Linked DNA regions of Homo sapiens. The protein of the gene in region 1 purifies or fractionates together with the protein of each later gene. This does not show direct contact. Each region holds a gene or a part of one and is shown in the gene's direction. Other genes may lie near its edges.

What was found.
Region 2: the proteins of STUM (region 1) and HSDL1 purify together in Homo sapiens (affinity purification with mass spectrometry; one large-scale study listed by BioGRID and IntAct). This does not show direct contact.
Region 3: the proteins of STUM (region 1) and DPY19L1 purify together in Homo sapiens (affinity purification with mass spectrometry; one large-scale study listed by BioGRID and IntAct). This does not show direct contact.
Region 4: the proteins of STUM (region 1) and NDUFS4 purify together in Homo sapiens (affinity purification with mass spectrometry; one large-scale study listed by BioGRID and IntAct). This does not show direct contact.
Region 5: the proteins of STUM (region 1) and FAM241A purify together in Homo sapiens (affinity purification with mass spectrometry; one large-scale study listed by BioGRID and IntAct). This does not show direct contact.
Region 6: the proteins of STUM (region 1) and TAPT1 purify together in Homo sapiens (affinity purification with mass spectrometry; one large-scale study listed by BioGRID and IntAct). This does not show direct contact.
Region 7: the proteins of STUM (region 1) and TSPAN6 purify together in Homo sapiens (affinity purification with mass spectrometry; one large-scale study listed by BioGRID and IntAct). This does not show direct contact.

Annotation. Positions count from the first base shown.
Region 1 is NC_000001.11:226,593,764-226,597,263, forward strand, and holds part of STUM (protein stum homolog), read left to right. Parts: intron 1-3,038; coding exon 3,039-3,218; intron 3,219-3,500.
Region 2 is NC_000016.10:84,121,641-84,124,909, reverse strand, and holds the end of HSDL1 (inactive hydroxysteroid dehydrogenase-like protein 1), read left to right. Parts: intron 1-181; coding exon 182-280; 3' UTR 281-2,769; downstream 2,770-3,269.
Region 3 is NC_000007.14:35,013,486-35,016,985, reverse strand, and holds part of DPY19L1 (protein C-mannosyl-transferase DPY19L1), read left to right. Parts: intron 1-3,280; coding exon 3,281-3,418; intron 3,419-3,500. UniProt on the Homo sapiens protein: C-mannosyltransferase that mediates the C-mannosylation tryptophan residues on target proteins.
Region 4 is NC_000005.10:53,675,639-53,679,138, forward strand, and holds part of NDUFS4 (NADH dehydrogenase [ubiquinone] iron-sulfur protein 4, mitochondrial isoform 1 precursor), read left to right. Parts: intron 1-3,500. UniProt on the Homo sapiens protein: Accessory subunit of the mitochondrial membrane respiratory chain NADH dehydrogenase (Complex I), that is believed not to be involved in catalysis. Complex I functions in the transfer of electrons from NADH to the respiratory chain.
Region 5 is NC_000004.12:112,183,454-112,186,953, forward strand, and holds part of FAM241A (uncharacterized protein FAM241A), read left to right. Parts: intron 1-3,239; coding exon 3,240-3,485; 3' UTR 3,486-3,500.
Region 6 is NC_000004.12:16,219,972-16,223,471, reverse strand, and holds part of TAPT1 (transmembrane anterior posterior transformation protein 1 homolog), read left to right. Parts: intron 1-3,500. UniProt on the Homo sapiens protein: Plays a role in primary cilia formation. May act as a downstream effector of HOXC8 possibly by transducing or transmitting extracellular information required for axial skeletal patterning during development. May be involved in cartilage and bone development.
Region 7 is NC_000023.11:100,634,007-100,638,275, reverse strand, and holds the start of TSPAN6 (tetraspanin-6), read left to right. Parts: upstream 1-1,469; 5' UTR 1,470-1,581; coding exon 1,582-1,668; exon of another isoform or gene 1,669-2,085; intron 2,086-2,529; coding exon 2,530-2,718; intron 2,719-3,023; coding exon 3,024-3,098; intron 3,099-4,246; coding exon 4,247-4,269.

The DNA of each region.
Region 1 (3,500 bases):
AGTTGTCTGATCTTGAATCCGTGGTTTTCACACTTTAGTGAGCCTTATCATTCCTATTCCTTGGAGGGCAGCGGGGAAGCTTGTTGGGAAAAGCAGATGCCAGGTCACCCTTTAGAAATTCCGTAGATCTCAGGTGGGACCCCGCATTTTTAACAAATGCCACAGGCGATGAGGCAGGTGGTAGGAGGAGACACTTGATGTTGGGTGTACTTCTTTGAATGCCACAGGCCACCTACTGTGTACAAGGCACTGTGCAAGGGGCTGGAGGGATGAAGGTGAATGAGATGCCGCCTGAGACCTCACATCGGTGGCAGTGGTTACGATGAGGAGGAGGAAAACGAGGCAGGGTCAGTTTCAGAAATCAGCATGTGGACTCAGGCTTCAGCCTTGGATCTGAAGCACAAAGGTGTGGGTGAGAGCAAAGGCCACACCTGGAAACTGTAGGAGCCAGCGAGTTGGGCAGGGAAGGGCCAGAAACCAATGAGTTGCATCCTGGGACCTCACACTGGTGGCGGTGGTTAAGATGAAGAGGAGGAAAATAAGGCAGGGTCAGTTTCAGAAATCAGCACATGGACTCAGTTCAGAGTGGGAGGCAAAATAAAAAACAAGGCAGCCTCAAAGAGCAGGAACTGAGAGAATCGAACGTGAGGAATGTGACAATGGTCACCAGTCTTTTGGTCAATTTCCCAAATGCCCTGCTTTCTGGTCTGGGCCCGCTTTTAACAGGCCATCTACACCTGGGAGGCAGTGCAGAGGGGCGTGGCATTGGCATCTGACTCTGGTGGGTTCAATGCTCACCTGTCATTGTGACCTTGGACAAGATGCTTAGTTCCTGAGAGTTATTAGTCAGGGTTCTCTAGAGAGACAGAACAAGTAGGATATATGGAAGGAGATTTTTTTTTTCTTTTGAGATGGAGTTTCACTCTTGTTGCCCAGGCTGGAGTGCAATGGCACGATCTTGGCTCACTGCAACCTCTGCCTCTTGGGTTCAAGCGATTTTCCTGCCTCAGCCTCCTGAGAAGCTGGGATTACAGGCGCCCGCCACCACATCCTGCTAATTTTTGTATTTTTTAGTAGAGACAGGATTTCACCATGTTGGCCAGGCTGGTCCCAAATTCCTAACCTCAGGCGATCTGCCCGCCTCGGCCTCCCAAAGTGCTGGGATTACAGGCATGAGCCACTGCGCCGAGCCCTGGAAGGGGACTTATGAGGGGAAGTTGGCTCATGTGATCACAGAGGTGGAGAAGTCCCACGATAGGTTGACTGCGAGCTGCAGAGCTGGAGAAGCTAGTAGCTGGCTCGAGCAGGCAGCATGGCACAGTCCAAGTCTGAAATCTCAGAACCAGGGAAGCTGACAGTGCAGCCCCCAGTTAGTCCTGAGAGGTCCCCAGGGGGCCGCTGGTGTAAGTTCCAAAGTTCAAAAGCTGAAGAACCTGCAGTGTGACGTGTAAAGGCAGGAGAAGATAAAGCGTCTCACCCTGGAAGGAGGAAAGGAAGCAAAGAGGACATTCCCCTTCCTCTGCCTGTTTGTTCCTGCTAGGCCCCCGACCAATTGGATGGCGCCCACCTACACTGAGAGCGAGTCTTCCTCTCTCGGTCCACTGGCTCACACATCAGTCCCCTCTGGAAACAGTCTCACAGACACACTCAGAAACAGTGCTCCACCAGCCGTCTAGGAACCCCTCAATCCCATCAAGTTGACACCTAAAATTAACCATCACACTGAATCTCTCTCTGTGTGTGTAAGAGTGTAGTAAGCCAAACAGTGGCCCCTAAAGATGTCCACATCCATATCCCCAAACCTGTGAATATGCTACTTGATGTAGTAAAATGCACTTTGCAGATGTGATTAAATTAAATGGATGGGGAGAGCATCCTGGATTACCCAAGTGGGTCCTGAATGCTATCACAAGGGTCCTTACTACAGGGAGGCAGCGAGAAGATATAAAGACAGAAGCAGAGGTCAGGGAGAAGGTGCTACGCTGCTGGCGGTGATGATGGAGGAAGGGGCCACAAGCCAAGGAATGTAGGTGGCCTCTAGAAGCTGGAAAAGGCAAGGAAGTAGATTTTCCCCTGGAGCCTCCAGAAGGACTCATCCCTGAGGACCCATTGCAGACTCTTCTAACCTCCAGAACTATAAAAGAATAAATTTGTGTGGCTTTTAACCATGAGGTTTGGGTAACTTGTTACTGACGCTGTAGGGAACTATGACAGATATAGAGAATGCTAATTCTCTGCACGGTTGTTGTCAGGAGGGCTCAGAGCCCATGTAGGAAAGGGGCCTAACTCGGTAAAGGTAGTGATGTTACCCATAGGGGCTGAGTCTTAGACAAGGTGAAGAATGTGACCGCACCCACCACGTTGCTTGGCACCTTGTGGATGCTCAATAGAGCTTAGGCTCCCTGTCCCTCCCCTTACAGGTCAGGGTGTCTAGGGGAACCCCATCAGGGAGGGGCTCTGGGACACCTGTCCTAGTCTGCGCCCTCTACACTGCACAGTGTACTACTACTACACTGTAGGCTCTTGGCTCCTGTCCCTTAGCGAGCAGCATGTGTGCTGGGTGGTCATTTCCTGGCCCTTCCCCTCTCCTGAATTTACCTCTGAGGTTGCTTCTGTGTTAACTCAGACACATCAGCTTCCACCTCAGAACTCTTTGGCTCTTGGAATCTTTGCCACATAAAGTTGCCTTTTCCAACTGCCTGTTGTCCTTGCAAGTGGCTTCCTGATTGCTCCTTCCCAGAAGGGACTGCTTGTCCTGTGACTTCCTTGTCTCCCCCAGAGGTTCCAAGACTGTATGGGGCCCCTGGCAGCCCCGTGCAATACCTCCTCCAGGTGGCCCACTGAACTCTGCAGTATGGAGATGAGAGGTGGGCCAGGGTCTGGGCAGGGGTGCCACTCAGAGGACAGGGTGCCAGACATCGGTGGTTCTTCTCTGAGTTCTTGGAGGGTGGACAGCTGGGCCCCAGGCCAGCAATGAGCACACAGACCCCTTTGTCTCCCAGTGCCCTCAGAAGGCTGTCCCCTCTGGCCTCTCACAGGGACATTCGTCTCGGCCTTCACTGTGCTGTGCGGGGCCCGCACCGACCTCCCGGACAGGCATGTGTGCTGCGTCTTCTGGCTGAACATTGCAGCAGCCCTCATCCAAATCCTCACTGCCATCGTCATGGTGGGCTGGATCATGAGCATCTTCTGGGGCATGGACATGGTCATCCTTGCCAGTGAGTAGCTGTTGGTGCTGCGCCTCCTGGGGGTGGGGAGTGGCCAGGGACAGGAAGGGCTTGGGAGACCTTCATGTCTGGCCGAGGTCCTGCTCACCCGCTAAGCACGGGCTCTGGAGAGGGCTTGCCCGTGTCCTCTTCACAACTCCCTGGGCTGCTTGGCACTGGGGACCCTCCCCGCCAGGCCTGGCCCAACACCTGCAGGGAATTATGAGTGGATGGCAGGAGAGTTCCATCATTTAATGCAAACTTGATTCAGACACAGAATGGTTTTGTGAAAGG
Region 2 (3,269 bases), on another chromosome or scaffold:
GATTGGTGGGTATTTGTTGTGATTGATTGGTGGGTATTTGTTGTGATTGGTGGGTATTTGTTGTGATTGATTGGTGGGTATTTGTTGTGATTGGTGGGTTTCATGTGCTGGTCTGTGTACTTGTTCCTTCAGTGTTGATTTTGGGTTCTAACCTTACAACCTTTTTCTCTTTCATTTTTAGTTTCTTTTTGCACAGTATATGCCTGAATGGCTCTGGGTGTGGGGAGCAAATATTCTCAACCGTTCACTACGTAAGGAAGCCTTATCCTGCACAGCCTGAGTCTGGATGGCCACTTGAGAAGTTTTGCCAACTCCTGGGAACCTCGATATTCTGACATTTGGAAAAACACATTTAATTTATCTCCTGTGTTTCATTGCTGATTATTCAGCATACTGTTGATTCGTCATTTGCAAAACACACATAATACCGTCAGAGTGCTGTGAAAAACCTTAAGGGTGTGTGGATGGCACAGGATCAATAATGCCTGAGGCTGATTGACGACATCTACATTTCAGTGCTTTTTCCCTAAGCTGTTTGAAAGTTACGCTTTTCTGTTGTTCTAGAGCCACAGCAGTCTAATATTGAAATATAATATGATTTGTCAGGTCTTATAATTTCAGATGTTGTTTTTTAAGGGAAATTGACCATTTCACTAGAGGAGTTGTGCTGGTTTTTAAATGTGCATCAAGAAAGACTACTGAAAAGTATTATTTTGTAACTAAGATTGCTGGTACTATTAGGAAAAATCTGTGTGTATTGTATAGCTCTAGCTGTTTGACTATCTGTAATGAAAATGCTGCACTTCAACTGGTATTTCATTAGAGAACCGTGTGTGTGCGTGTGTGTGGTGCCTTTGAGCAACTTTATTTATGGTTACCATATTTTTAAAAAGATTTTTTGTCAGGGTGACTTAACATGGACTCTTATAGGGTATTAAAACAATCTAGATTATTCCTTTTCATCCTAAATAAGCCTACCAAATTTCATGCTGTTGGTTTGCCATGAATGATATTACTTCCTACATTATATTTGTGTTTTTTCAAATCTGCTATGGAATGAACTTATTCCTAGATTTGGATATGTAAGAGAAACCTGCAGTCATCTTTTGATTTATAAGGCAATTCTTGTGGATAAATAGTGATTTCTCAGCCTCTGACCCATTTTATAACTGAAATTTAGCCCTTTAGAGCTTGTTATATCTGGTTTTCCTACGTTTTTCTATGTAATATTATTCCATTCCAGTAGCATTATTGATAGAAATAGTAAGTATTTATGGAATAGTAAAATATGGACAAATTACGTGTGTGACATATCTGTCAATATAAGTTAGAAGCTTATTCTTGGTTTGTGTAATGAATTTATGTATTGTAGTGAATACCTTTACTGGTGTGAAGATAATTATGCACAAACCCTCACAATACGCGTTAACATTGAAACCTGTGAAATGTCCTTAGTTTGGGTCATATAAAGCCAACCATTTTTGAGGACCATGTACCTAGTGCTTTGAAAACTCTAAGTCACTATATGAATATGACAATATGTGCACATTTAAAATTCAGAGCTCGGCATTGTGATACTGATGCAGAAGCTAGTAGATTGGTTAAAAGTCTGGACTTCTGTGGCATTTTTTTCGTGACGTGATAATCTATCATAAGCAGACCTAAGCACAGTTTTATGAACACAATTTTGCCCATGACATTGCCTACAGGATTTCCAGATGTGACTTGCACTCAGAAGATCAGTGGTCAACTTCAGAAGCTCTTCCACGCTTAGATCATGTCTTCAGAACTTAGATGTGAAAATCTACACACTGGGAGATGCTGTGAGCCCCAAGGTTTTGATGGAGTTTGCTTGGAATCCTCTTGACTTCATGCCACATTGACGTGAACTTTGATGTATAATAAGCAGCAGCAACTTCATGTGAAAATATGGTCAGGTAGTTATATGTAAGGTTACGTGGTCCAGTAATGTCTTAGATTGATAAATTAGGTATGGAATCCATCAGTGTTACGTGATGAGAATAGGTGAACACACCTTGTCAGTGATGATGTAAACTTCTCTCCTTGGCAGGACATGGGCAAACATGCTGATTGGTGCAAATGTGGTGCCGAGCTGTCCATAGCTGCAGTGAAAGATGAAGAGCAAGACCTTCTCTAGGTTTTCTAGCTTTCATTAAATGTATTTTTTTCCCCAGAGCTAATTTGAAAGTTGATTGGACCACTGTGGATGGGGTGTCATTAAGAATGTGGGAAATAGGGGCCGAGTGCGGTGGCTCACACCTGTAATCCCAGCAGTTTGGAAGGCCAGGGCAGGTGGATCGCTTGATCCCAGGAGGTCGAGACCAGCCTGGGGAACACATCCTGTCTCTACAAAAAATACAAAAATTAGCCAGGCAGGGTGGTGCATGCCTGTAGTCCCAGCTACTTGGGAGGCTGAGGCAGGAGAATTTTTTGAGCCCAGGATGCAGAGGTTGAAGTGAGCCAAGATCGTGCCACTGCACTCCAGCCTTGAGACAGAGCGAGACCCTGTCTCAAAAAAAAAAAAAGAACGTGGGAAATATGAACCTTTGAAAGTTAATCTGTGAATTGAAAGTTTAACAATAAAAGTAGTTGTTTGTTTCCTTTGGAAGAGTTTTGTTCCAGATGTTTGTAATTTGGTTGTTTGTAATTTGGAATGAGAGAATTTTTTTTTCTTAGGAGTGATTGCAAGAAATTAACATGAACAACAGTGGTCATAACTGATTAAAAGCTGACACGTCAGTAACAAAATTGTTTATAACTATGTGCCTAGTCTTTGGAAGCTACTGGGTTGACTTCTGGATCTCTTTCTCTTGGTAGGTTGAGTAAGGTGAGGATTGATTTGAGCATGGAATTTGGCTGTGTGGATGGAGATCATTGGTGATTTTTTTCCATGAGCCATTTCAGTCTTCAGGCTAGAATTGTAATGGATTCAAGAAAGAGTGGGAAGAAGAAAAAAAGGGAAGAGAGCAGATAGAGACAGCTCCTAGGAGACTTTCCTGTGTTTTCCTATCCTCAATTACTTAAAATCTAATCACATTTGGGAACCAGAGGGTTAGATGGTTATGTCCTCAAAACCTATTCCAGTCAATTTATGTCTCAGTCTCAGTATTGGCTTATGTGTTATTTATCTTTTTAAAAATTCATATATGTTTAATGAGTATAAAGCCAAGCACAGGACAGTCGTGAATTCAGTAGAAATATTCTCTGTTATTCCTGGCCGCGTGCAGTGGCTCACGCCTGTAATACCA
Region 3 (3,500 bases), on another chromosome or scaffold:
GTTTGAATAGGATCCAAACAGTGCCTACACATTGCATTTAGTTGATGTGTATCTTAAGTCTTTTAATATGTGAATTTCTTTACCTGTTTTTGTTTTGTTTTCCTGCTATTTGTTTGTTGAGAAATCCAGCTGATTTGTCCTATAGAATTACCCACAATAATCCTCATTCTTCAATTATGTTCCTGTATCCCAAGTTTCCTGAACATTTATGGATCAGAAGATTTGACTTATTTTCTGGCAGGAATACTTCCTAGGTGGTGCTGTATACTTCTATTGTATCAGGCCAAGAGGCACATCATATCTGGTTGTCTCACTTTCTGTGATGTTAAGAGTGATCACTGGCTTTAGGTATTGTGATGCTGATTCCTCCTATAGCCTAGCCATCAGCCTAGGTTAGTTATTTCATTATCCTTCTCAAACTGTGGTACCTAATCTATCATTTTTTTCTTTGCACTTATTAGCTATAATTCTTCTATTAAGAACTTTCACACAATACCTTTTGATTTCTCCCTGAGGTATATCATAGAGGAAAGTCAGAAAGATGCTTTATTCTTTCTTTTTATTTACTAATATTCAGAAAAATGAGTAGCTTCCCTAGCATCTTCTAGTAGTGATCAATGGAGTACCTTCTTTTGGAGTATCATTATGATATGATGGATTTTAACATATTTTGTAAACTTTCCTGTCTTTAGCTATTAAAGCCCTTGCAGCTCTCCTTGTTTGCCCTTGATGTGACCTCACTAGTATCCATGGCTTCCTTACTTTCAGGTACTACAAGACATTTTCTTCTCAGACCTGGCATCAGCCAGTTTTCCCATGAGCCACCATTTCTGTCAGTGGCAGATGCTCATTGCTACTAGATTGGCCATTGTATTTTGGCCTTTTTACTGAAGAGAATTAGGCTACAAAAATTTTTTTAAAGAGAAAAGAAATCATGAATTTATATTAATTTTTTAAATGGAAACAAGATTAGATTTTTTTTTACTTATTTGATATTAATCTTTTAGTTTGAGAATCTTGGTTTCAAATTATTGATTTGTTAGGAATAAAAGTACCAAAGGTATAATTAAAAATGTGATTACTGAAAAGAGTTTAAGATTTTCTTGCAGTTCGCTTCTTCACAGGGCAACCCCCAGAATTGGGGCTCAGCCCAGGAGGCCATGTGGGTTCTTGGCTTTGGGCAGGAAGGAATTCAAGAATGCTCCAACAGAGTAAAGTGAAAAGAAGTTTACCTTAAGAAAGTAAAGGGATGAAAGGGTGGCTGCTCCACAGGCAGAGCAGCTGTGAGGGCTGCTGGTTGATTGTTTTTAAGGTTATCTCTTCATCATATGATAAACAAGAGGTGGATTATTCATGAGTATTTTGGGAACAGGGAGGGGAATTCCTGGAACTGAGGATTCCTCCCTCTTTCAGACCATACAGGGTAACTTCCAGAGGTTGCTATGGCATATGTAAACTGTCATGCTGCTGGTGGGAGTTTCCTTTAGTATGCTAATGTATTATAATGAGCACTAAGGATGACCAGAAATCACTTTAGTTGCCATCTTGGTTTTGGCAGGTTTTGGCTGGCTTCTTCACCGCATCCTGTGTTATCAGCAGGGTCTTTGTGACCTGTAACTTGTGAAACCAGTCCTGCCAAGTTCCTGGGCTCCATTTTAACCTTAGGATATAGTCCACTAGGGATATACAGTAAAATTACAGTATCTTAATGTTACTTGAAATCTTCTTCCAAGTTGATAAATAGTTAATTCCTTTCTTTCATTTTTATTTTGATATTTAGGGATTTTTAAATTTTTGTTTTATAATTAAACATATGTTTCCAAAATCAAACCTACAAAAGAAGGAAGGTATAGTTTCCTAGGGCTGTCATAAAGAAGTGCAACAAGCTAGGTGGCTTAAAACAGCAGAAATATATTCTCTCACAGTTCCAGAGATTAGCAGTGGGACATTAAGGTGTTGACGGGCATCTTGTCTCTGAAGGCTGGAGGGGAGAGTCCTTCCTTGTCTCTTCTCAGCCTCTGGTGGTTGCTGGCCATCCTTGGAATTCCTTGGCATGCTGATGCCTCACCCCAGTCTCTGACCCCTCTTCACATGGCCTTTTCCCCTGTGTGCCTGTAGCTTTGAGGCCAAATATTCCTCTTTATGTAGGTACATCAGTTGTGTTGGGTTTAGAGTCCACCTTAATCCAATATGACCTCATCTTAACTTGATCACGTCTGCAAGAATCCCATTTCCAAATAAGATCACTCCACAGGGTCTGGTGGACATGAAATTTTAGGGGACACTATCCAAATCAGTACACAAGGAAACATAATTTTAAAAATAGTGGTATCAGAGTCGATACATCAGAGTATCAAGACCATTTTTTTCTTTTTCAATAAGTTTCTGGATAGGCATATCTCTTTTGTATTTGTGAGTCTTAAACCCAGTTTAAACTTTGGCAGCTACTGGTACTGGCTACCAGGGCAGCTCCAGGGAAAACTGAAGATGCAAATACAAGACGTAGATTTATCTTGTGTTTCTGTCTTCCCTCATACTGCCACTTAGACTCTCCGTTAGGCTTCTAGTATTTTCTTGTTTTTTTTTTGTCTCACATATTATTTCACCCTTGCTATCTTTCCAAAGTAGTGTGCCAAGCTAAAAACTGTCTCTTTTCTTCAAAAGAGGACCACTCCCCACCCTTATCCCCAGTCGCACAGGGTTCTTACCTTATGCTGACTTGATAGGAGGGAAAATAATCTGTAAAATTAGGTGGCACCCGAGTGAAATTCATATGTAATAATACATCAGTGTGTAGCCTTCTCAACACATTTGCATTTTTGCATGTAAATCCGGAGGAAAAATGACTGATAGTGTCATTTTGGGGATTAAAATAAGCAGTTAGAGGAGTATTTTTGGCTTGAGATTTCTTGGTTCATGATAAATTTTAGTTCCATAATAAACCACTCACTCTATTCATAAGATAGCATTTTCTAAGAGTGATATTAGTATAAGTAATAGGATTTTCTAAGTTGAAGTATGCTGAGTCGTATTATTTTTTAAATGCTGAAACTTTTTGAAGCTATTTTGCATTCAGTTATTTCAATTAAGATGCATTTATGTGAAAATACATAGTTTTTTCACAACTTTAGGATTTATCAGTGATCAGAAACCTGTGAAATTCATTGTATTAATAGCTATTACTTAATTGCTTTGTTTTTCAAAAACAGTGTATTTACTTAGAAGTGGCATCATAATTATGTACCTTTTGTTATTTTAATTGAGCATATCTTTATTTCAGGGACTATATTATTCCTATTTCAAGACTATTGTGGAAGCACCCTCATTTTTGAATGGAGTATGGATGATTATGAATGATAAACTGACTGAATACCCCCTTGTCATTAATACATTAAAAAGATTCAATCTTTACCCTGAGGTAAGGTACTTTTTCCAATTGTGATTTTTCACTTTTGTAAAAACTTTTTTGTATTAAACGCTGATTCTAAATCTAAGATATA
Region 4 (3,500 bases), on another chromosome or scaffold:
ATACCAAAGAGCTGTTCTTTTCTGAGGACAAATTATTAATTGATTTGAGTCCAAAATAGATTAACAAACTAGATTCTCCATTTTTTCTCACCCAATAGAGAATAGACCTCTATAAACCATTAATCCATTTACAGGGATCATCAGATGGTCAGATTGCAAAACCAATTCCCCAGATTAGTAGAGAGCAAAAGACCAGAGTCAGAGTCAGCAGAGTTCTCTTACTGCTTTGGATTCACCTTTTAGAGCCAAGAAAAGAGGTATGCAGGCTTAAGCATAAGGTACACCATTTCTTCGATGATGAAGTTTGCCTGCCTTTGGTTGATAAATCTATAGGATGTCTCAAGGGGACCTCCAAAATGGTTAAAAGAAATTTTCCAGAAAAAGATACATTGACTCTAGCATAGATATACAATAAACATGTATTGAAGGATTTTACTCATCTGATATAAGGGAGCCAGGCAAATGTTATAACCAGTTCAAAGGACAAGTCAAACAGCACAGATTTATGTAGGGTAAAGAAATGTTGAGATGAGTTGCTAATTGAGACAAAACTGATTTTTCCAGGACTGGGTTGAGAGGGGAGTCAAATCTATGAGAGAGGACAGACTTTATGTATCTCTCAATTATAGTTGTTCTCCTTATTCACAGTTATGTTCTTTAAAGTCACTATGAAACACTAAATTAGCAAGAATTCTTATCCCTCGGGATATACATGGTTAGGTTCCTGCAGGCCTCTGGTCACATAGTTTGTCGTCTGACCAGTACATAACCTTGTTTTATATGTGTTTTTGTTTAAAGACACCTTATTTAATACAGTTAATTCATCAACATTGAACTCACAGCCAACAGCACTATAACTCATGCCTAAACAAAGCGTATCTGAAACACATATTGGCACATCACAGCTTTCTTGGAACACTAGATAACATTTCAGCAGTGTTTGGGGACCATTTTAAACAGTGAAATTACCAAAAAGCAGCACAGAAATGCAAAATACTGGCACTAAATAGAGCACAAAAAGTATGCTTGTTTACAGTATGAGAGCTAAAACAAGAAGGCAGAGCATTATCCTGCTTCACCTCATTTAGAAATGTATGTTACGGGACTCAAATTTTTTGACATTCTCCACATGTCACAAATGACCACAGAAGCACCATGGGCATTGATTTAGGAGTCACAAATAAACTTTACGTGAATTCATGAAAGATTTTTTTTTTCATAGATAGCTTTTTCCTCCCAATGTTTAATCCTGGATCCTGTCTGTAGCTAGGGAAGTACTGCTAAGGCGCGAGCACGAGAGAGAATTATATATGGTGGCTTACTGACGTTCCTGGTATATTATAGGTTAAATAGGATTCTGAGACTCCCTATGAGTAGCTTGCAAATCTCTGGAAGTGGTTTTTGGCTATTTGTGTAGTTTTTTTCTCCAGAAAAATGTGTTCTAAATTTCTAATGGCTGATTTTCAGATATACTTTTGGAACACAAAAGCTGGAGTAATGGATTACTACCTTGGTTTGTTTTGTGGCAAATGCTGAATAGTTCCAACTACTGCTTTGAAAATAATAGAAATATTACATAGCAAGTATATTATTTGAAAAGATAAAATTTCAAGGGGCCGTTGACTGTCACATCAAAGCAGTAATTTGGGGTTTGAGAGGTGGCAATACTCTACAGCAGGTGTAGAGTATTACTAATCTAACAAATATTTCAGGTGCCTCATGTTTTCACCTTATTTGCTTGTTTAAATCACTTTATATAAATTTCATGGAAAGACTTGCTTTGCCAGTGTATCCGAAACCTCTGTTATTTCTCCATAGTATTTTCTATAGAAGATCTAGGATACTTTTACATTATTCTGAACCATTTACCCCCTACTGTACCCCACCCCCATATTATGTACCTAATTGGTAATTTCAAAGTAAAGAGACTTTTAAAGTGAAATTCCTAAAAAGCTATTTTTCTTTTCTCCTTCTTAAAATTATATGTTAGGGTTATGCTCCGCTTTCAGCCAGATATAATATGGGTACATAGCCTGGTGAAGAATCTTGAAACCTTCCAAGTACCAGTATACCTTGCTTTGGCCTCCCAAAGCTTTGCTCTTCTGATCCCATGCTTCAGTTGGAAGTGACTGTCAGTTACGTCAGTTTGTGCCAAATTATGTGGTAGTTCTTGTTCTGTGTACAAATGGAGAGTAGGAAAAATCATTTAGCTGTTCACTTCCAAACTCATGTCAGGGTTTGAGATTAGGTTATTAGAGAAGACAGACCTTTCACAGAACGTCAATCAAGGTTACTTGAGATAAAATATTTCACAAGCAATAAAAGAACTGATGGATGTTTGTATTTTTGTATTACTGAACCATAAATGAAATGATTCTGTATAAAAATGAATGAAGTTGATTTTATTTTTCTGTCTTATATATGGAATTCATAAGTTAATTGTGGCCTGGTTTTGTTCAGAGGTTGGGGTTTTTTGGCATTTGAAAAGTATATCATTTATATCATAGGAAATAGAATATTCCACTCACAATGTGGAGATCTACAAAATAAACTGTCATATTTCAGAAAAAGAAATTGGGCATGGGATGTTAAAGATCACATTTTAAGTTTACTACAGCATTTTCCAAAGGTACTTCTCTGATACTAGGGCTTAAAGTTCAGACTATTTTGTGAAAGCGTTTCAGTGTGTGAAACAGCAAAGGGAGTCAGCTTCTCATCATTTAGGTGCTGGTAGTTGGGTTTGTGGCAAATCTGTGCCATATGGCTACTCTCCTCTAGAAAGTGACGGCAGCACTGGGAGCTTTACCTATCCCTAGGGCAGCTGTCTTGGACTCCATTGCTTTGATCTTCTTCTGTCGCACAGCTGAGAAGAGCAAGGGGCTGGTTTTCAGTACCCTAATAGGACAACATATGGGACCATTATGATTGTAGACTATACCTTCATTTTATATAAGCATTCTTCAGAGAGTGCAAGTATTTTCACTTCCATATTCCCATTCAGAAAAATAAGTTTGGGCTCTTTCTTTTAAAAAAAATTATTTTAGGGTTAAAGAAAGACATTCTTATAGAAATTTAAACATTTAATATCTACATTTTATTTCTTGCAAAATACATCCTTTTTAGCAACAAGTTTCAAATAGGAAGTAGAAAAGATGAGTATAATTCGTCTAACTTACCCATTCTTAAGCATACATGCTTAATGTCCTTTCAAGTGTTGTTATTCTTAGAGTTTTATCTTTTTAGCTCAGCTTCCCTGTTTGCTCAAGTAACCTTTACATTCGAGTATAGTGGGACCAGTAAATTTGTTCATCCAGGTACTGTAACAAACACCTTGGAGGAGGATGCTTGGAAATGTGATCAGATTCTTAACAGTACCTCAAAAAACAGCAAATTTTTATTATGATGACAGCCCTACATAGCAGAAAAGTTTTCTGAATAATGAATAGAAAATCCAAAGAGAGATGTATGTGGATTCTTACTTTAGTTTTAGTCTCTATTGT
Region 5 (3,500 bases), on another chromosome or scaffold:
GATTTAAGTGTTGCAACACCTCCTTCTTCCCCTGAAAAACCCACAAGCATTTGTAGATTTAATTTATTTTACAAAGAATTTAAACCTTCAGACAGTACCTACCACATCCAGATTAGGGTACTTTCTTCGTACTAAAACCACAAAAATACTGAAAAAAAAAGTCTTAAAAAGCTTCAGTAACAACAAAAAAAACCCCAAAGTACAATGAGTGCATAGATTACAAGAAATTGGGAAGAGTAAAAAAAAAAATTTTTTTAAGAACTTTAATAAAAAATGAAGAAAAAAAGGCCAGAAACAGTATCAACATGCTGAACACTGGAGAAATAGAGAGGGATGAGGGATCAGCAGAATTACATACTAAATCGAGGACTCTTCAAGTTCTACCCTAAAGAAAAGAAAGCTTTAATATTAGGCAAGAATAAGGGTTTTTTTAAAATGTAGTATATTGTTATGGATCATATCAAAGTACAAGAAACATAAAATTGACCCAGTCATAATATATCAGTGAAGGAAAAAATAATTTAGAAATCAATTTTTTAAAAAAAGAAAAGATCCACAAATTATAACTTAAGAGAAAACTATCAGTATCAAAAAAGGATCACATAAATCATTTTATGGATTAGAAAACTGAAGTTCAGGAAAAGTGAAGTAATTTGGCTAAGGTCATGTCACTCAGTTAAAGTGTTGCAGCCTGGATGTGAACTCCCTAGATAACTCTACAACATTTTGTTCTTCTCACTCTTTTTCTGATAGAAGTGAAAATCCAAAAGTAATTTTAAAAATTATATAAAATAGGCCGGGCACAGTGGCTCACGCTGGTAATTCCAGCACTTTGGGAGGCCAAGGCAGGTGGATCACCTGAGGCCAGGAGTTCAAGACCAGTCTGACCAACATGGTGAAACCCTGTCTCTAGTAAATACAAAAGATTAGCCAGGCATGGTGGTGCATGCCTGTAGTCCCAGCTACTTGGGAGGCTAAGGCAGGAGAATTGCTTGAAGTGTGAGGTGGAGTTTGCAGTGAGCCGAGATTGTGCCATTGCACTCCAGCCTGGGCAACAAGAAAGAAACTGTCTCAAAAAAAAAAATTATATAAAAGTATAGCTCAAAAGTAAATCTGGCTTGAACACATGATGTAGACTCAACAAAGATGCCCCAGTGAGTCTCATTTTTCTACTACCTCATCAGTCCCCCTTGGTACTCATTACTGTACATAAATTACTAGTATATGGGAAAAGCCCATTTCTTAAAGTCATACTGAAAATCATTTTGTCTGATTTTCTATTTTAAACAAAAGTTAGATTTTTTTTCACTCTTCCCTTAAAGATTTATTTTAAACTCTATGTGTACAATAGAAAATAAGGCTTCATATAGCCATTTCTTTAATGAAAAAAATATTTTTAATTATTTACTGATCGATGACTGAAATGATCAAGCTTTGGTTTCTACTAAAAGAATGTAAGTTTGATTCAGATGTTTGAAGAATGTCTTAAAATTTCCTCAAATTCATTGGCTGTTTGTGGCAGATGATTTTGTGACACTCCCTTATAAGATAATTAATTTTGCTTTCCTTTGGCCTATACGGCATACTTAATGGTATTTAATACTTATTATGTGAAGCCCTATATCTAAAGGCTTTTTAAACGTATAATAAATTCTCCATCATGTACATACTATGAGCAAATAATTCAATAATTATTTGAATCATGCCTCCTAAATAAAATATATTTAAATAAATTATAATTATCTCACCTACATGACAGTTTTTCTTTTGTGATTCTACTAGGGTCTGGGGCGGTGGGGAGGGGGAGAGAAACTATACCAATTATTTTAACAAAGATAATTTAATATAAGTAATTGTTAACTGGGTATTGGAAAAGCATGGTCACCAGATCAGCATCATAAGCATCACCTAGAAACTTCCTAGAAATGCAAATTCTCAGACTCCAACTTCACCCCTGACTTACTGAATCAGAAACTCTAGTAGTAGGCCCAGCAAGCTGTGCTTTAACAAGCCCTCCAGCGGATTCTAACGCATGCTAAAGTTTAAAAACCACTGCACTAAAATATCACCAAGACAACCACTCATAGGACTGGGCAGAAAGAAAAAGAGATGGATGGACTTACTGAAACTGAGAAGCTTCAAAAAGGCCCCCATGGAACTGAAATTCAGACTTTTGAGAACAGGTCACTGCTTGCCTGGTACTGATTTCTCTGAGTTCAGAGGAGGGAGCCTATAGACCTGGGAACCAGGTATCTGAGGAAGAAGCACCCAGTAATTGGAGCTGGCATCTCAAGAAGGCACATTGAGATTGGTTCTACAAGTGTTGGAAAACCCCCAAATTGCAATCAGCTGCTACTACTAGCAGGCACTATTGCTGTCGGAGTGAAGAATTGTTGCTAGAGTGAGACTTAACAGGATTAAGAAACCCATCCGAAGGAAACAGCAAATTCCTTCTTCCTTCTCTACCTGTGAAGTGTCACGCTGGTCCCTCTATTGGCAGAGCCTAACAGGGAGACAGAAATGCTTGCAGAATTCCAAAGAGTGGGTTTGAAGCCAAGAGACAGTAGCTTACTGTCATGGCCTTAATTATAATACAAGTGGAAGATAATAGAAATAATACTTTAGGTATGTATAATTGGGTGCATGTAGACATTTTCTGGGATACTAACTACTGGGTAGACATTTGGCCTTATTGTAAAAAAAAAAAATTTGTATTAAAACTATTTGTTTCTCCTGATGAAATTAATAAGAGGCATTTAGGGCATCTATATAATGAACAGGAAACTATGCAAGGGCCTGCGCTGAAGTCTGCTTAGCTGAGCCTAAGACAAAGATCACAGCAGTAGTGGCTGAGGATTGCTCAATAATAACAGCAAACATGCTTTGGTCATCTGAGGCTCGGTTTCTTAACGTCTTAGTGTCAAAGGAACCGTCTAAAAAGAATCTTACCAGGACAGAGCAGTCAGGCCTTGCCTCATAAAACAGGAGGGTGGCAGAAAAGGGTGTTCTGAAATCATGGTCACTCACAAGAGAAATACAAACATGATTCTTCACTTAAGCAGTCATTTTTGTGCAATTCCAGGATCAAAAAGAACATTCCCATTGTGTTAACAGGTACTTGTAGAATAATTATCAGAAGTATGCCCAGCACTTTGGAAGATGAAGAACTAAGGTTCTTAAAGACGTTTACATATTTCTCATGTTATGTTCATGTTTTGTCTTTTTTTTTTTTTTTAAAGGATGTTGAAGACTCACAGAACCACACTGGTGAGCCGGTTGGAGATGACTACAAGAAAATGGGAACACTTTTTGGTGAACTGAACAAAAACCTTATCAACATGGGCTTCACAAGGATGTATTTTGGAGAACGAATAGTGGAACCAGTAATAGTCATTTTCTTTTGGGTTATGCTGTGGTTCCTTGGCCTGCAAGCCCTTGGACTAGTTGCTGTTCTTTGCCTTGTTATTATTTATGTGCAACAGTAAAACATGGCCGAATTG
Region 6 (3,500 bases), on another chromosome or scaffold:
ATATGTGGTTACTGGCCTTGAACTCTGGATGTAGTGGTTATCAAGAACTGCAGATTGATCTCTTCTGTATTTTCTTCCTGTCCTTGAAAATACTACCAACTTCTGTTGTTCCTTTTGACATAAAACCAAATAATCAATGTTATGTTTTTGTGCTTGTTCCCCACTTGATTCATCTGCAGAAGTCCTAGGTAGGAGAGTTTCTGTATAGCCATATTTTTATTTAGGAATCTAAGTACAGCAAATCAACTTTGGACTAAGCATTAGGAAATCTGTGTTTTTGGCTTGGTTGGGTTGTTGAATTGCTTTGTAAACTCTGTGCTTGCTTAGACTGCTTGCCTAATCAGTTTGGTTCTGTTTCATAATGCCACTACTAGATAGTTCAGTATCTGAAGCATCTAGGTTGCTTCTAGTCACCATGGAGACTTAACAGAAGGCTTGGTGTAAATAAGGGTAGCACCTGTGAGGGTAGCACAGGTGAAACAGTACCTGTGTAATGCAGGTGTTGGAGATGCATGGGGATAGGTATTGCTTGTAAAACAAGAAAGCCTGAAGTCGGGTATAGGTGAACATATTGTTTCTACTGGTAACAGTGCCATGGACCCATTTCTTTCTTCTTTAACAGTGACTCTGGACTTCTAAAACTTCAACTTATTATCCATCTCTTTTGCCTCTCTCCTCTCCCTTTAACCATGGTTAGACCTCTTCTTGCTTCACCTCTGTTAGAGATTGAGCAGAGGCAGGAAGAATGAAACCCAGAAAAGTCAACTGAATTTTTAGCAATACCCTTAAAAGATTTCGAGTGGGACGAAGGTTTTAACTATTCATATTACCTATGTCTTATTCTTTGTGTAACTGAAAATTTGTCAGTTTCTTCTTACAAATACATTTTTATTAAAATATGTTTTCATTTAACCAGTCTTCACCTATATCACATAGTTATCCCAGTGGCCCCAAACTTAACCAAATGGATGATTAAAGGGTGACTGATTCTAAAATTATGATCTAGAGCCAATTAATTTGTTCACAAAGAAAAATAAAAATAATAAAACCGGGAAATTACTTGGAGTAACCACAAACCAGATACAAAGTAAAATTAGCTACTTCTGACAAACTATTGCTTTGCTTTTAAAATTCTCACTTGCTTTACTTAATTAGTATATATAGACCAAACGAACAATGAAAAGTTACTTATTTTGGTTTTTGATCAGTTCAGTGTCTTGGCTTTTGACAGTTTTTAACTTTAACTTAGTTTACGCTCTGAAATTCAATCCTAGCAGCTCATTTGTGCTCCAATTTGGGGACTACTTGCATAAAAGAAGTCTCTGGAAAGCCTATATAGCATTGACTGTCAAATTAATGATATTCTATTCTCATTTGTAATCCTTTGCTTTATAACCTTATGACCTTGGAAAAAGTCACTCCTTTGTTTATACCTGTTTTCCATCTATACATGTGTAAATATTCTACTCTTTACTCCTCTAAATGAGACTATAAACATTTTTTCAAACATCTTAAAAACTTGAATATACTGTGTGAAATGGTTCTTTACTTAATGTTTGACTTAGGAAGGCAGAATTGCTGTTGTATGATTGAGTCCCAGAAAAGCTGATTACTAATTGGCCTGGTACAAGAGTGTGTCTCTGTTCAATAAGCTTATTTAATATTTTAGTGTAACCTTAATAAAGTTTACTAAAGTTTTATGTTATTTAAGACTATGGAGATATGCATGTTTCATATTTTCCTAACAGTTAACCAGTATTACTTTCCAAATTTTTAAATGCTCAATGCTATTTTAAGAAAGATATATTTAGACATATTACTGAACATATAAATATATTTATGATTACTCATTACTTTTAATTAATACTTTTTAATCTTTGGTTCTTATTTCTAAAATAAGCTTTCTTAGAAGATAATTAAACATTGTGTTTTTTCTTTTAGGGGTGAAGAAAAAGCAATTTATACTATGCTTTTTCTGAATTTAAGTTCTGGATCACAGAGCAATTCTGTGGTAGGAGATGATATCATGTAAAAATATGCTGGAGGGGCTGGGCGCGGTGGCTCACTCCTGTAATCCCAGCACTTTGGGAGGCTGAGGCGGGTGGATTGCCTGAGCTCAGTAGTTCGAGACCAGTATGGGCAACACGGTGAAACCCTGTCTCTACTAAAATACAAAAAATTAGCTGGGCGTGGAGGTGTGCGCCTGTAATCCCAGCTACTTGGAGGCTGAGCCAGGGGAATTGCTGGAACCCAGGAGGTGGAGGTGGAGGTTGCAGTGAGACGAGATCGTGCCACTGCACTCACGCCTGGGCAACAGGTGACAGAGCAAGACTGTGTCTCCAAAAAAAAAGTATATATATATGTACGTATGTGCTGGAGGAATTGATTTGGATTTATGATTGGTATTATTTTCCTCATATTACATATTCACAGTTGACGGCTGGGCACGGTAGCTCACACCTATAATCGTAGCACTTGGAGAGGCCAAGGCGGGTGGATTGCTTGAGCCTAGGAGTTCAAGACCAGCCTAGGCAACATAGTGAAACCCTGTCTCTATAAAAAATACAGTGAGCCAAGATTGTGCCACTGGGCTGCAGCCTGGGCAACAGAGTGAGACCCTGTCTCAAAAAAAAAAGAAAATTCACAGTTGTCAAAACATAGTTCTTCTAATGTTAAGCACTTGTTTATGCTATAATAGTAAAATGTTTCTTTTTTTTTTTTTTTGAGATAGAGTCTCGCTCTGTCACCAGGCTGGAGTACAGTGGTGCGATCTTGGCTCACTGCAACCTCCGCCTCCTGGGTTCAAGCAATTCTCCTACTTCAGCCTCCCAAGTAGCTGGGACTGCAGGCGTGCACCACCATGCCCAGCAAATTTTGGTATTTTTAGTAGAGACGGGGTTTCACCATGTTGGCCAGGATGGTCTCCATCTCTTGACATTGGGATCCACCCGCCTTGGCCTCCCAAAGTGTCTATTTTTAAAAAACTTTTACTGAATGATATTTCTTCCTGGTAAGATTGGGATAAATGAACTAAGATTAATTGACATCTTAAAAACTGAAATCAGTGTTCAGAAAGTAAATATTTGGATTATTGGAAAAATACTTATTTTTAAAACGTAGAGGTAGATGTTTGGCATAACAAATGAGAGTGACTGTTTTGCTTAGAAGGAATGAAATACTGCAAAAGTCTGACAGAAGTTAAGATGTACTTAGCTGTCAGAGTTCTTGGTGATACCCATAGGTAAAGAACAGTGGCTTTGCTAAATAATTAACCAGTCAACTGTAGCCAAAATTATAGGACAGATAAGTTCAGATAGGTCTATAGAATTCTAGAGAGCAATGTTTAACAAAATAAAAACAAGCGAAACACTGAAACGCAGGTATACCTCGGCACTGGAGATTGAGTGGCGCTCTGGGAAATGCAGCCTTCTCCAGGAAAAGGTGGGAATGGTCCTGGCAGAGCAGAAGCAGCGAGGCTAACTCGATGGCTCTGGCAGTGA
Region 7 (4,269 bases), on another chromosome or scaffold:
TATTTCCTAACGACTTTACCTCAAAGTGTTTGAAGGTGTATGTAGATGTATCGTTTATCCATTCTCTCCATGTATTTGTGTATTAGGCCTTTCAAATTTTAGTAAAAATTTTAGTATAAAGCCTGGCAATGCAATAATTAATTTTCCAACAGTTGCTGCCTTGCACCTCAGACGTCTGGCAAGATGTTATAGGAACTGGTCCTAGGTCAATATTCGAAGCACAGGGAAGCTCTGTGTGACCAAGTCAATGGAACTTTCCTGTGTTCTGGTCCTGAGGTGTATGTTTAAAGCAACGTTTCAAGCAGAAAAGTTTGAGTATTCATCTCTCCTCCACAAATGCAGGTCTTTTTGCAATGGCAATAGAGTAAATAGCCACTTGTGATATTAAGCTTGTGTCAATGATGAAGGGTTGGATTGCATAGGGAACTGATACAGCCTTCTAACCCCGTTCCTCTAGAGATAACACAAACTCACTTAACACTCAGTCTCTGCCTTCAAAGAGCTGACGCTTTAGTTGAGAAATCAGACCTTAACGCACCTCCTGTGTTGTAACAACATAGACCAATATATTCACAATATATAACATTAGGTTTTAATCTCTCTGTAATCAGCTGGGTTTTGATGGGAAAAACCAGGTGGCTGGAATGTACAGTGCCTTTCTGTTTTAACATTTAAGAGGAGGTCACACTCACCAGGGATTTTTCCATTGCACTCTCTCTTTTTAAAAGTTTACAGCGAATAGCTGAACTTACATTTCACTATTATGTAAAAATACTTTCCCTCAACTTTCCAATTACTTAGGGGATAAAAAAGGAGAGGAATACTGGGGTTTTGCAAAGTCCTGCAGGTAAATTCTAAAGTCATTATTATCTTTAATACCTAGCTTAGAAATTCTTTCAACAAGTGGTGATTATTTTCCTCCATTCACATCTCCCCTTCCTAACCCATAAAACAATGTTCACAAATTGAAAAGCACACAAGTGAGAAAAAAATCAGCCTAATTCCACCAGAGGTAAATTTCACTGTTCCTTTCAGTTTTTGTCTAAGCACACGTGACTGTATGTATTGCTTTGCAATCCGCTTTCTTTTTGCAAATATATTTCTTGTGGGTATTTTCCCATGTATTTTCTTAGGTCGCTTTTAACCTCTTCATTCTTTTCCTTCTCTCTAGGGCACCAGGGGCCAGGGAGGCCCAATCTCAGAGCGCTGCGGGCTCTGCTGGTGATAGAAACAATATGGTGAAGTTATAAGGAGAGGGGAGGGGTGGGGGGCGGGAAAGATTCCTTAGGATAGAAAAAAAACAATGAAGAAAGCTCCACTTGAAGACCTATGAAATTTCCGACACTAGAACCTTTGTATATAGTTTTCGGTAACCTTCGGCAGGGGGCGCTCTGAAATTGTTGCCACTTTCCGGACAGCCTCCCATACTTTACCCTCTACAAAATTGTACAGTGTTTCCGGCCCTTCTCAGTTGTGGACGCTCGTAAGTTTTCGGCAGTTTCCGGGGAGACTCGGGGACTCCGCGTCTCGCTCTCTGTGTTCCAATCGCCCGGTGCGGTGGTGCAGGGTCTCGGGCTAGTCATGGCGTCCCCGTCTCGGAGACTGCAGACTAAACCAGTCATTACTTGTTTCAAGAGCGTTCTGCTAATCTACACTTTTATTTTCTGGGTGAGAGACGAAGGCGCCTGGGGCCGGCAGGGGATCCCGGGCTTTTAGTTGTGGGGGGTGTGACCCTGAGCGGCGGGAGCTCAGGTCGGGAACGGTGTGGGGTTTGGGCGGCCATCGCGCCTGGGACCCCGACGCCGGCGACCAGTGACTGGGCCCCGAACAAAGAGCTCAGGCATCTCGCCGGCGCTGGGGTCGGAGTGCGGGACGAAGGCAGCCGAGAGGCTGAGCTGGGACCCAGACGTACCAGCGTTCGAGTTCGATACGGGAGGCGAGGTGGGGCCTTAAGCCCCCAGAGCACGCAGACGGTGACCCTGGACCTTTGCAAAGGCAAGCAAGGCTTGCCCGGCCCCTTTGAGGGCTCACTTGCATAATAGTGTCTTTCTTTTCACTGCTTCGTAAGAGAGGAGTGTTTCGCAGGTAAGTATGGTATGCCTCCACTCCCGCCAGTCTATCCTTGGGCTTGCTTTTGTGTACCAGTCCTTTGTACCCTGTGCCCATCCCTACCTGGAGAGGACGGGGGAAGTTTCTGGAACTCATAAAATCACGTTTTTTTTTTCCCCTTCAAGGTTTTCTTCCTAAGGTTGGAGTAAGATAGTTAAGGAAGTTTTGATCCCTAGGGCAAATATGCCATGGGCTTGTGTTTACACACAAAAAGATGAATTTTAAGAATTTTGATAAGATACCTGGTCCACAGCCTGCTCTTGTGTGCAGATCCCCCCCTAACCCCTTCTACTCTTCCCCCTTGTCTGCCGTATCCCAGCATATTACACCTATTGTGCCTTAAATACCTCATGCGTTGTGATTTGAAGATGCTGCTGTACACAGTGCGTAACTGTTTGTATTCTCTGAATTCCCACATAGATCACTGGCGTTATCCTTCTTGCAGTTGGCATTTGGGGCAAGGTGAGCCTGGAGAATTACTTTTCTCTTTTAAATGAGAAGGCCACCAATGTCCCCTTCGTGCTCATTGCTACTGGTACCGTCATTATTCTTTTGGGCACCTTTGGTTGTTTTGCTACCTGCCGAGCTTCTGCATGGATGCTAAAACTGGTGAGTCCTTGTTTTCATTAGAATTGATTCTTGGTTTTAGAAAAGTTTTGTATGTTATAGAATTCCTTTGTTGGAACTGGCCATGGCCCTTTACAATTTTTCCTGTTCCTTATGGAAACTTATCAAGTAACAGTTCAGCTGCCAGTTTCCACTTTCAAAATAGACATGTTGTTATTTTCCCTGCCCTTTTCAATGAAAACATGATGAACTAATTGAGAAGACGACCATTATTTTTTCTTTGACTCCCTTTGCAGTTGTGCTATATCTTATTTATGCTGACTTGGACTTTCTTTCTTATCCTGCAGTATGCAATGTTTCTGACTCTCGTTTTTTTGGTCGAACTGGTCGCTGCCATCGTAGGATTTGTTTTCAGACATGAGGTAAGCCTGAATTAGGGAAGCTTAGCATGTTACATTTATCCTCTGAGAGATAAAAATGGATTTATTAAAGTAGAAGAGTCAGACCTCTGTATTTAAACCTGTAGCTGACAATAATGGCCTTCTTGTAAAAATTCTGGTCCACTTCTAATTTAAAAGAAAATTTAGAAAATTGTAAAGACTGATAGTCACCAGAAGAAAATTACTTACTTATATTCCCTGTCGTTTTTCTGTGTATAAATACCTATTAAAACGGAGATAGTACAATTTATAACTTTGCTGATAGGAAAATATTCAAAGCACAAAATTGATAACCTTCTTATGCCTTGCATTTTGAAAAGATTGGATATACTTAATGCAAATCATCAGAAGTTTAATATTGGGCCGGGCGCGTTGGCTCACGCCTGTAATCCCAGCACTTTGGGAGGCCGAGGCAGGTGGATCACGAGGTCAGGGGATCGAGACCACCCTGGCTAACACGGTGAAACTGTCTCTACTAAAAATACAAAAAAAAACAAAAAATTAGCCGGGCGTGGTGGTAGGTGCCTGTAGTCCCAGCTGCTCGGGAGGCTGAGGCAGGAGAATGGCATGAACCCGGGAGATGGAGCTTGCAGTGAGCCGAGATCGCGCCACTGCACTGCAGCCTGGGCAGCAGAGCGAGACTCCATCTCAAAAAAAAAAAGCTTAATACTGAATTAGAAAACAGGTAAACTTGGGGTTGTTCAAATAACATTCGGTGAGTAGCAAAGGCTCATTAATGAGAGTTCTCATAAAGTGGTAGCACAGCCTCCCAAAGTAAGGTTTTGTAGCTTACAAATTCCATAGGCATCGAATTTGAACTCAGTTTAAAGTGGAGAAAAATTAGCAGGGTGCAGAATACAGCAATACTGCATTGCCACTCAGATAAATACATATTCCCACAGCACTTTGAACTTGTAGTGGTTCTCATCATATATTTTAATGTTTTGCTTAGTAGTCCCCTCAGCTAACCTATACCCCTTAGAGGACAGGACTGTACCATGGAAGTTAATTACTATACATGTTGCTGCTGTCAAAGATATGACCATTGGTCAGATTCGAGAACTTATTTGACCTGAAACCAAAAACTTTCTAGAGGATTTTCTTACTGACATTGTGTTTCTTTGCTATAGATTAAGAACAGCTTTAAGAATAA